Linked DNA regions of Homo sapiens. The gene in region 2 interacts genetically with the main gene of each other region. Each region holds a gene or a part of one and is shown on either strand. Other genes may lie near its edges.

What was found.
Region 1: changes in MAP3K10 (region 2) and CSNK1G2 together harm fitness more than expected from each alone (negative genetic interaction), as found in Homo sapiens cells (one large-scale study listed by BioGRID).

The regions. Positions count from the first base shown.
Region 1 is NC_000019.10:1,947,594-1,951,403, forward strand, and holds part of CSNK1G2 (casein kinase I), read left to right. Parts: intron 1-3,810. UniProt on the Homo sapiens protein: Serine/threonine-protein kinase. Casein kinases are operationally defined by their preferential utilization of acidic proteins such as caseins as substrates. It can phosphorylate a large number of proteins. Participates in Wnt signaling.
Region 2 is NC_000019.10:40,197,806-40,201,615, reverse strand, and holds part of MAP3K10 (mitogen-activated protein kinase kinase kinase 10), read right to left. Parts: intron 3,242-3,810; coding exon 3,061-3,241; intron 1-3,060. UniProt on the Homo sapiens protein: Activates the JUN N-terminal pathway.

The DNA.
Region 1 (3,810 bases), about 38 Mb from region 2:
CTCTGACTTGCTGGGTGTGCCTTTGAGTTCCTCTGAGGGTGGGTGCGCCGAGGGGGATCCAGCTGGGCCCTGGCCACGTGCAGGCCAGCCAGAGCCCTGGAGCCTGCAGGTGGGCTGGGACAGGGCTTGCGACCGCAGGGGTGGTGTGCGTTTGCGCTGGCGTCTGCACAGGTGTGTGCGTGCTGTGCCATCACGCTGGTCAGGCCTGTACGCCGTGGAGAGGGGCGCTGTGTGGGGCTCGCTGCCTGAGCCCTGGGTGGACCGTGGCTGCCCCATGAGTTGTCGGGGACCTCCGCTGCCCCTTGGACCTCGCCCGCGGCCCTGGGCAATGGGTGTGGTGACGTCCTGGGGCCCCCATGAGTCAGCTCGTCCTCGTGCCCGGGCACTGGCCTCTCCTTCCTGTGGGCGCACAGCCCCGGTTCCTCTGAAAGCTTCGTGGGCCGGGACCCGGGATGAGCTGGTTAAACCCTGGCCCTGTGAGCAGGAGGTGTGGCTTCGGGGGGCGGCCCCGCCCTGGGCTCAGACTTGATCCTGCACCGGAGGGAGCCATTCTGGAAGGCCGCTGCCCCGGGCCCTGTCCCTCCCCCTCTCATCCCCAGGGTGCTGGCCAGAGCCGGGCTCACAGCGTTTCTTAAAATTAACGATCCCGGCCGGGCGTGGTGGCTCACGCCTGTAATCCCAGCACTTTGGGAGGCCGAGGCGGGTGGATCACGAGGTCAGGAGATCGAGACCATCCTGGCTAACACAGTGAAACCCCGTCTCTACTAAAAAGACAAAAAATTAGCCGGGCGCGGTGGCAGGCGCCTGTACTCCCAGCTACTCGGGAGGCTGAGGGAGGAGAATGGCATGAACCCGGGAGGCGAAGCTTACAGTGAGCTGAGACCGCGCCATTGCACTCCATGTGGGCGACAGAGTGAGACTCCGTCTCAAAAAAAAAAAAAAAAAACGCAAAAAAAAAAAAGATCCCGTCACACTGACCCAGCTCACTGTTCTCTTACCAGCCTTATTTCGGTGTGGTCCTTAGAGCATGAGCCACTTTTTTTTGCTGGGAACATAATCCACGTTTGGTAAAATTCGGCAACGTGTGCACGCAAGTGGTTTTTGTACAGCTGACCCTTGAGCAGGGTGGGGTTTAGGGCAGCAGCCCCTCATGTAGCAAAATACCCTCGTATAGCTTTCGAGTCCTCCAGATGCCGCTGCCGACAGCCTGCTGGTGACCAGAGGCCTCGGGAGGACACGTGGTCCGCGCACACATACCTCGTGTGTTGTGTTAGGTGCTGCGTTCTCACAGTGAGGGAAGCTGGAGACCAGAACATGTGGAGAAAAGCAGAAGGAAGAGAAACCCTGTTTGCTCTTCACGCAGTGGAAGTAATGCTCATGGAAGCCTCTGTCCTCGTCGTGTTCACGTTGAGGGCTGAGGAAGGGAGGGTGGGTCTCGCTGTCTCGGGTGGCAGAGCGGGAAGGAGCCAGGAGAGGCTGGCGCCCTCAGGGCAACCTTTATTGAAAAAATCCACGTCAGAGTGGACCTGTCAGTTCAAACCTGCCGTGGTCAAGGCTCCTCTGTGAGTGCAGCCACCACCTGTAATTCCAGAGTGTTCTCATCACCTGCAAAGGGAGCCCTGGCCCCATCAGCAGCCAGCCTTCCACACCATCCTTTCCAGAACCTTCCCACCTTCCCAAATTGAGACGCTGTCTTCGTGAAACGTTCACTCCCGTGCCCTCTCCAGCCCCTGGCACCCCCATCCTACTTTCTGGCTCTGTGACTCTGAGGGCTCCAGGGACCTCCTAGGGGTGGAATCACACGGGATGAGGCCTGGTGTGTTTGGCGTCTCTCACTGAGTGTGACACCCTCGGTGCATCCGCGCCATGGCCCGCGTCCGAGTCTCGCTCCTGTTCGTGGCTGAGTCGTGTTCCGGCGTGTGGGTGGCCACGTGTTTATTTCTGTGATAGATGTTTGCATGGCATCCGCGTGTGGCTGCTGCGAGCACCCGTGTCCGGTTCCCGTGTGGCTGCGTGATTCTTCTGTCAGGTGGACTTCTAGCGGTGGAACCGCTGGTCACAGGGCCACTCCCGGTTGGACCATTTGAGGAGCCGCAGACGGCCATCCATACCTGCACTGTTTGGGTCCCCTGCCGGGTTTTGGGGACTGGATCTCTGCACAGCGACGACCACTCCCCTCTTCCGGTGACTTGGTTTCTCCTGTCCTTCGGCCCGATGCTTCTCTGGCCTGCAGGGCATCAGGGACCCTGCTGTCCTGATCCCCATGCCGTCTAGAAAGCCAGGGGTCCTGCATGTGCCCGGTGTCCCCACTGCCTTGTCAGGCACAGGGCCAGATCCTGCACCCTGTGACGAGCACGGCCAGTGGGACAGACAGATGGATGTGCTGCCCGTGACCTTCGCCACAGCGAGTTCAGAGGCCGGAGGCATCCAGTGTCCACAGAGTGACCGGTAGGCCCCAGCCCCACAGGATCATCGAGGTGGCCCTGGCCTTTCGAGGCCACAAAAATCAACGTTTATTTTTATTTATTTTATTTATTTATATATTTATTTATATATTTATTTATGAGACGGAGTCTCGCTCTGTCCCCCAGGCTGGAGTGTGGTGGCGTGAGCTCTGCTCACTGCAAGCTCTGCCTCCCGGGTTCACACCATTCTCCTGCCTCAGCCTCCCGAGTAGCTGGGACTACAGGCACCCGCCACCACACCCAGCTAATTGTTTGTATTTTTAGTAGAGACGGGGTTTCACTGTGTTTGCCAGGATGGTCTTGATCTCCAGACCTCGTGATCCGCCCTCCTCGGCCTCCCAAAGTGCTGGGATTACAGGCGTGAGCCACCGCGCCTGGCCATCAATGTTTATTTTTAAGTAGCAAAAGAGAACTCAGCAGTGTTGGAGAACTTGAACATTACAGCAACATCTGAAGAAGATGTTCTTTCACAAACCTCAGATTCCAGGAGATGAGCACCGTCCGCTTTCCAGAGAAAATTGTCTGAGGCCTCTGGGAGACAGGAGGGGGTGCACTTAGAAACAGCCAAGGCCTCCTTCCATGTTGGGACGGACGGGCCTTCCTGGGCTGGCCCGGCCTAAATCTGCTGCCGCCCACCGAACACCAAGGCACCTTCTCGTGCCCCAGAGGCCACCAGCACCCGTCCCCCTGCCTCCCTCCAGCCAGTGTCAGGTGGGGACCTGGCCGCTGGAAGGGAGGTGTCACCTGCTCTGGGGCATCCAGGAGGGAGGGGCTGCGGGAGTTTTGCTGGAGACCCTCCAGGTGGGGGTTATGGGGTATCATGGCGGAGCGTGTTGGGAAGTTTTCGGTGAGCTGGGCGTTTATTCGCCTTGGTGCCCCCCTAGATCCCTGGGTGATCCCCGTGCCCAGTTTTCAGGGGAGACCATGGGGGTCAGAGAGCTGGCCAGGCGGGTGGTCTGTGTCTGTCCCCTGCTGTTGAAATGAGGGGAGGTGAGAGGAGACGCCGTGTGCCTGGGGAGGCAACACTTTCTACCGTTTGCTGGTTTATAAAAATCAAAGATGGCCAGGCACGGTGGCTCACGCCTGTAATCCCAGCACTTTGGGAGGCCGAGACGGGCAGATCACGAGGTCAGGAGATTGAGACCATCCTGGCTCTACTAAAATACCCTGTCTCTACTAAAAAAAATACAAAAAATTAGCCGGGCGTGGTGGCGGGCGCCTGTAGTCCCAGCTACTCGGGAGGCTGAGGCAGGAGAATGGCGTGAACCCGGGAGGCGGAGCTTGCAGTGAGCCGAGATCGCACCACTGCACTCCAGCCTGGGCGACAGAGTGAGACTCCGTCTCA
Region 2 (3,810 bases):
GAGGCTGAGGTGGGAGGATCACTTGAGCCCAGGAGGTTGAGGCTGCAATGATTTGTGACGGCATCACTGCACTCCAGCCTGGGTGACAGAGCAAGACCCTGTTAAAAAAAAAAAAAAAAAAAAGGCTGGGTGCGGTGGCTGACGCCTGTAATCCCAGCACTTTAGGAGGCCCAGGTGGGCAGATCATGAGGTCAAGAGATCAAGGCTGTCCTGGCCAATATGGTGAAACCCCGTCTCTACTGAAAAATTAAAAAAAATAAATAAATAATACAAAAATTAGCTGGGCCTGGTGGCATGTGCCTGTAGTCCCAGCTACTTGGGAGGCTGAGGCAGGATAATTGCTTGAACCCAGGAGGCAGAGGTTTCAGTGAGCCAAGATCGCGCCGCTGTACTCCGGCCTGGGCGACAGAGCAAGACTCCAGCTCAAAAAAAAAAAAAAAACAAAAAACGCTGGAGCTCAAGCAGTCATTTTGGATCATGAAGTAAACTTCAGAATGGAGACCATACAAGGTGGGGGAGAAACAGTGGTTTATAACTGGAGGGTAGCATGATCCACCCCTCTCTCCCATGTCCTTGGAAACCTATGGGGTTACTGTGATTGTAATAATGACTGAGAATGTTACTGAAGTTTATGGCGGGGAGGTGTGGATATCCTGCATCCTGCTAAGTACAGGACAGGACCACATCAGAAAGAATTAGCCTGCCCGGCCGGGTGCAGTGACTCATGCCTGTAATCCCAGCACTCTAGGAGGCTGAGGCGGGCGGATCACCTGAGGTCAGGACTTCAAGACCAGCCTAGCCAACATGGTGAAACCCTGTCTCCACTAAAAATATAAAAATTAGCCAGTGCATGCCTATAATCTCAGCTACTCGGGAGGCTGAGGCACAAGAATCACTTGAATCTGGGAGGAGGAGGGTGCAGTGAGCTGAGATTGTGCCATTGCACTCCAGCCTGGGCGGCAGAGTGAGACTCTGTCCCAAAAAAAAAAAAAAAAAAAAAAAAGGTAGCACAAATGAACGCCTGATGTACAGCCAGTTGGAAATTCTCCCAAAGGGCTGCTCTGCTCTAGGCTGAGCTGGAGACTTCCTGTCTGATCTGTCTCAGTCCCATACCCATTAATTTGCTGCTTGGACAATCTGGAGCCTCAGCTGGGAATTGACGGGAACAGTAAATGGGGAGACCCAGGTTTGGCTCCAACCAAGCAGAAGGTCCTGGGTTGAAAGTCTCCATGGCCACCATCAACTCTCACTGGTGACAGCAACAGACCCATCATTGGCTGTCTCTACCTAACAGTCAAAGGAGCTTTTATTTTTAAGTATTTTTTTTCAGATGGAGTCTTGCTCTGTCACCCAGGCTGGAGTGCAACGGCGCCATCTCAACCTCTGCCTCCTGCAGTCAAGCAATTCCCCTGCCTCAGCCTCCTGAGTAGCTAGGACTACAGGCACCCACCACCATGCCTGGCTAATTTTTGTATTTTTAGTAGAGATGGGGTTTCACCATGTTGGCCAGGCTAGTCCTGAATGAACTCCTGGCCTCAAGTGAACCACCCACCTCGGCCTCCCAAAGTGCCAGGATTACAGGCGTGAGCCACCGCGCCTGGCCGAATTTTTGTATTTTTAGTAGAGGTGGGATTTCACCATGTTGGCCAGGCTGGTCTCAAACTCCTGGTGTCAAGGGATTCACCCACCTGGGCCTCCCAAAGTGCTGGGATTACAGGCGTGAGCCACCGCACCCGGCCTCCAAAGGAGTTTTTATTTACTTCCTTTTATAAAAATTAATTTAAAAATTTCTTTTTCATATACATGGGGTCTCACTACATTGACCAGGCTGGTCTCAAATTCCTGGCCTCAAGTGATCCTCCCACCTTGGCCTCCCAAAGTACTGGGATTATAGGTGTGAGCTACCACTCTATTCAGACATGGCTCCTCATGGCTTCCTACTTCATTAGAATAAAACCTGAAGGCCACTCCCTCACCCACAGGGCCTTCCAGCTCCCTCTCCTACATAATTTCCTACCTCTCTCTTCCTTGCCTGCACAGTGGCAGCCACATGGGCCTCTTTGCTGTTTCTGGGACACACCATGCTCACCTCAGCACCTCCTTCTTCCTCCAAACTTTTCGTGACTGGTTCCTTTTTGCCACTTGGAACTCAGATGAAGTATCATTTCTCAGATTGCTCAGAGAAGCGTTCCCAAAAGTAGTCTTCCAGCCCTTAAAGTGCCTTCCTCTCAGCCTCCTCGCACTTTGTACTAACACTTTTTTCTGGTGTACTTGTCTTTAAAAATTATAATTTTCTTAAAAAACAGCTTTATAAAAAAGAGCTTCTTGTATGTTGACTGACTTACTATTCCTGAGGGCAGGGATTGCATGTATTTTTCTTCTCTGCTATATCCCTAGAACCCGGTGCAGTTAGATGAAGGAATGAATGAGTGAATTAATCATTTTCCTGTCTGACAGATGGGACAGTGCATGGGCTAGTGTCTGAGGGGGCTTTCAGTGCTAGCATCCATGTGCTGTCTCTATGCTTTTTTAAATTTTTTCTTTTTTTGGAGACAGAGTCTCGCTCTGTCACCCAGGCTGGAGTGCAGTGGCCAATCCCAGCCCACTGCAATCTCTGCCTCCCGGCCTCAAGTGATTCTCCTGCCTCAGTCTCCCGAGTAGCTGGGACAACAGGCATCTGCCACCACGCCCAGGTAATTTTAGTATTTTTAGTAGAGATGGGGTTTCACCATGTTGGTCAGGCTGGTCTCAAACTCCTGACCTCAAGTGATCCGCCCACCTCGGCCTCCCAAAGTGCTGGGATTACAGGTGTGCGCCCCCGCGCCCGGCCTTGTCTCTAGATCCTATGAGCTTTTTATTCTAATCCAGTGTGCCCCCTAGTTGCCATTTGTGCTAGCTGAACAGGTAACTGGCACTTGTCTGGTGGCCTGACCTTGCCAGCAGGTCCCTTTGTCAGACTGAGATCCTGGCTTCAGCAGGAGACCCTCCCTCCCACTCTGCCCTCACCCCTTCCTCCCTCCCTTACTCCCCAGAGGCCATCCCGGCCGCGCCTTTCAGCACCTCCAGACATCACTGCTTTTGGAGAAGAGGGAGAGACGGATAACCTCCGGCGCCATCCAGGCGTAGGTCCCCGCAGCGCTCATCTTGGTGGTCTTGTGCCACTCGCGGGCGAGGCCGAAGTCCGTGATCTTGAGCACCGTGTCTGCGAGGTTGTGGTTCTCGATGGCCTCCAGGATCAGGACTGTGGGGTGGGAAGAAAGGTGGGTCACCCCAGACCTGCCACGCCGCAGACCCAAGTGTTCTGGCCCGCTGCCTCAGCTAGAAACACGTCTTTCCTCTCACTGCCTCAGGCTGCCCCGCTCTGTGGCAGGTCCTTTCCTGGCCTGGAACATCCATGAGCCCCTCCGCCCAGGTCTAATCCCTGTCCCAGGCTCCCATGAGGGAGTAGGGAGCTCCTCCTGTGTCCTCTGCCCTCCTGATTCTGTCCTGGGCTTTGGGGAGCTCCATGAATGGTCAAGAACCAACAGCCAAGGCTGAAGCGGGTCACTTGAGCCCAGGAGTTCGAGACCAGCCTGTGCAACATGGCAAGACCTCATCTCTACAAAAACTTTTTAAAAATACCTGGGTGTGGTGGTGCATGCCTACAGTCCCAGCCACTTGGGAGGCTAAGTTGGGAGGATCACTTGAGGCTGGGAGGTTGAGGCTGCAGTGAGCCATGGTCTTGCCATTGCACTCCAGCCTGGGCAATAGAGTGAGACCTCGTCTCAAAAAAAAGAAACAACAGCCAAGGCCTTAGTCCTCCAGGCCTTG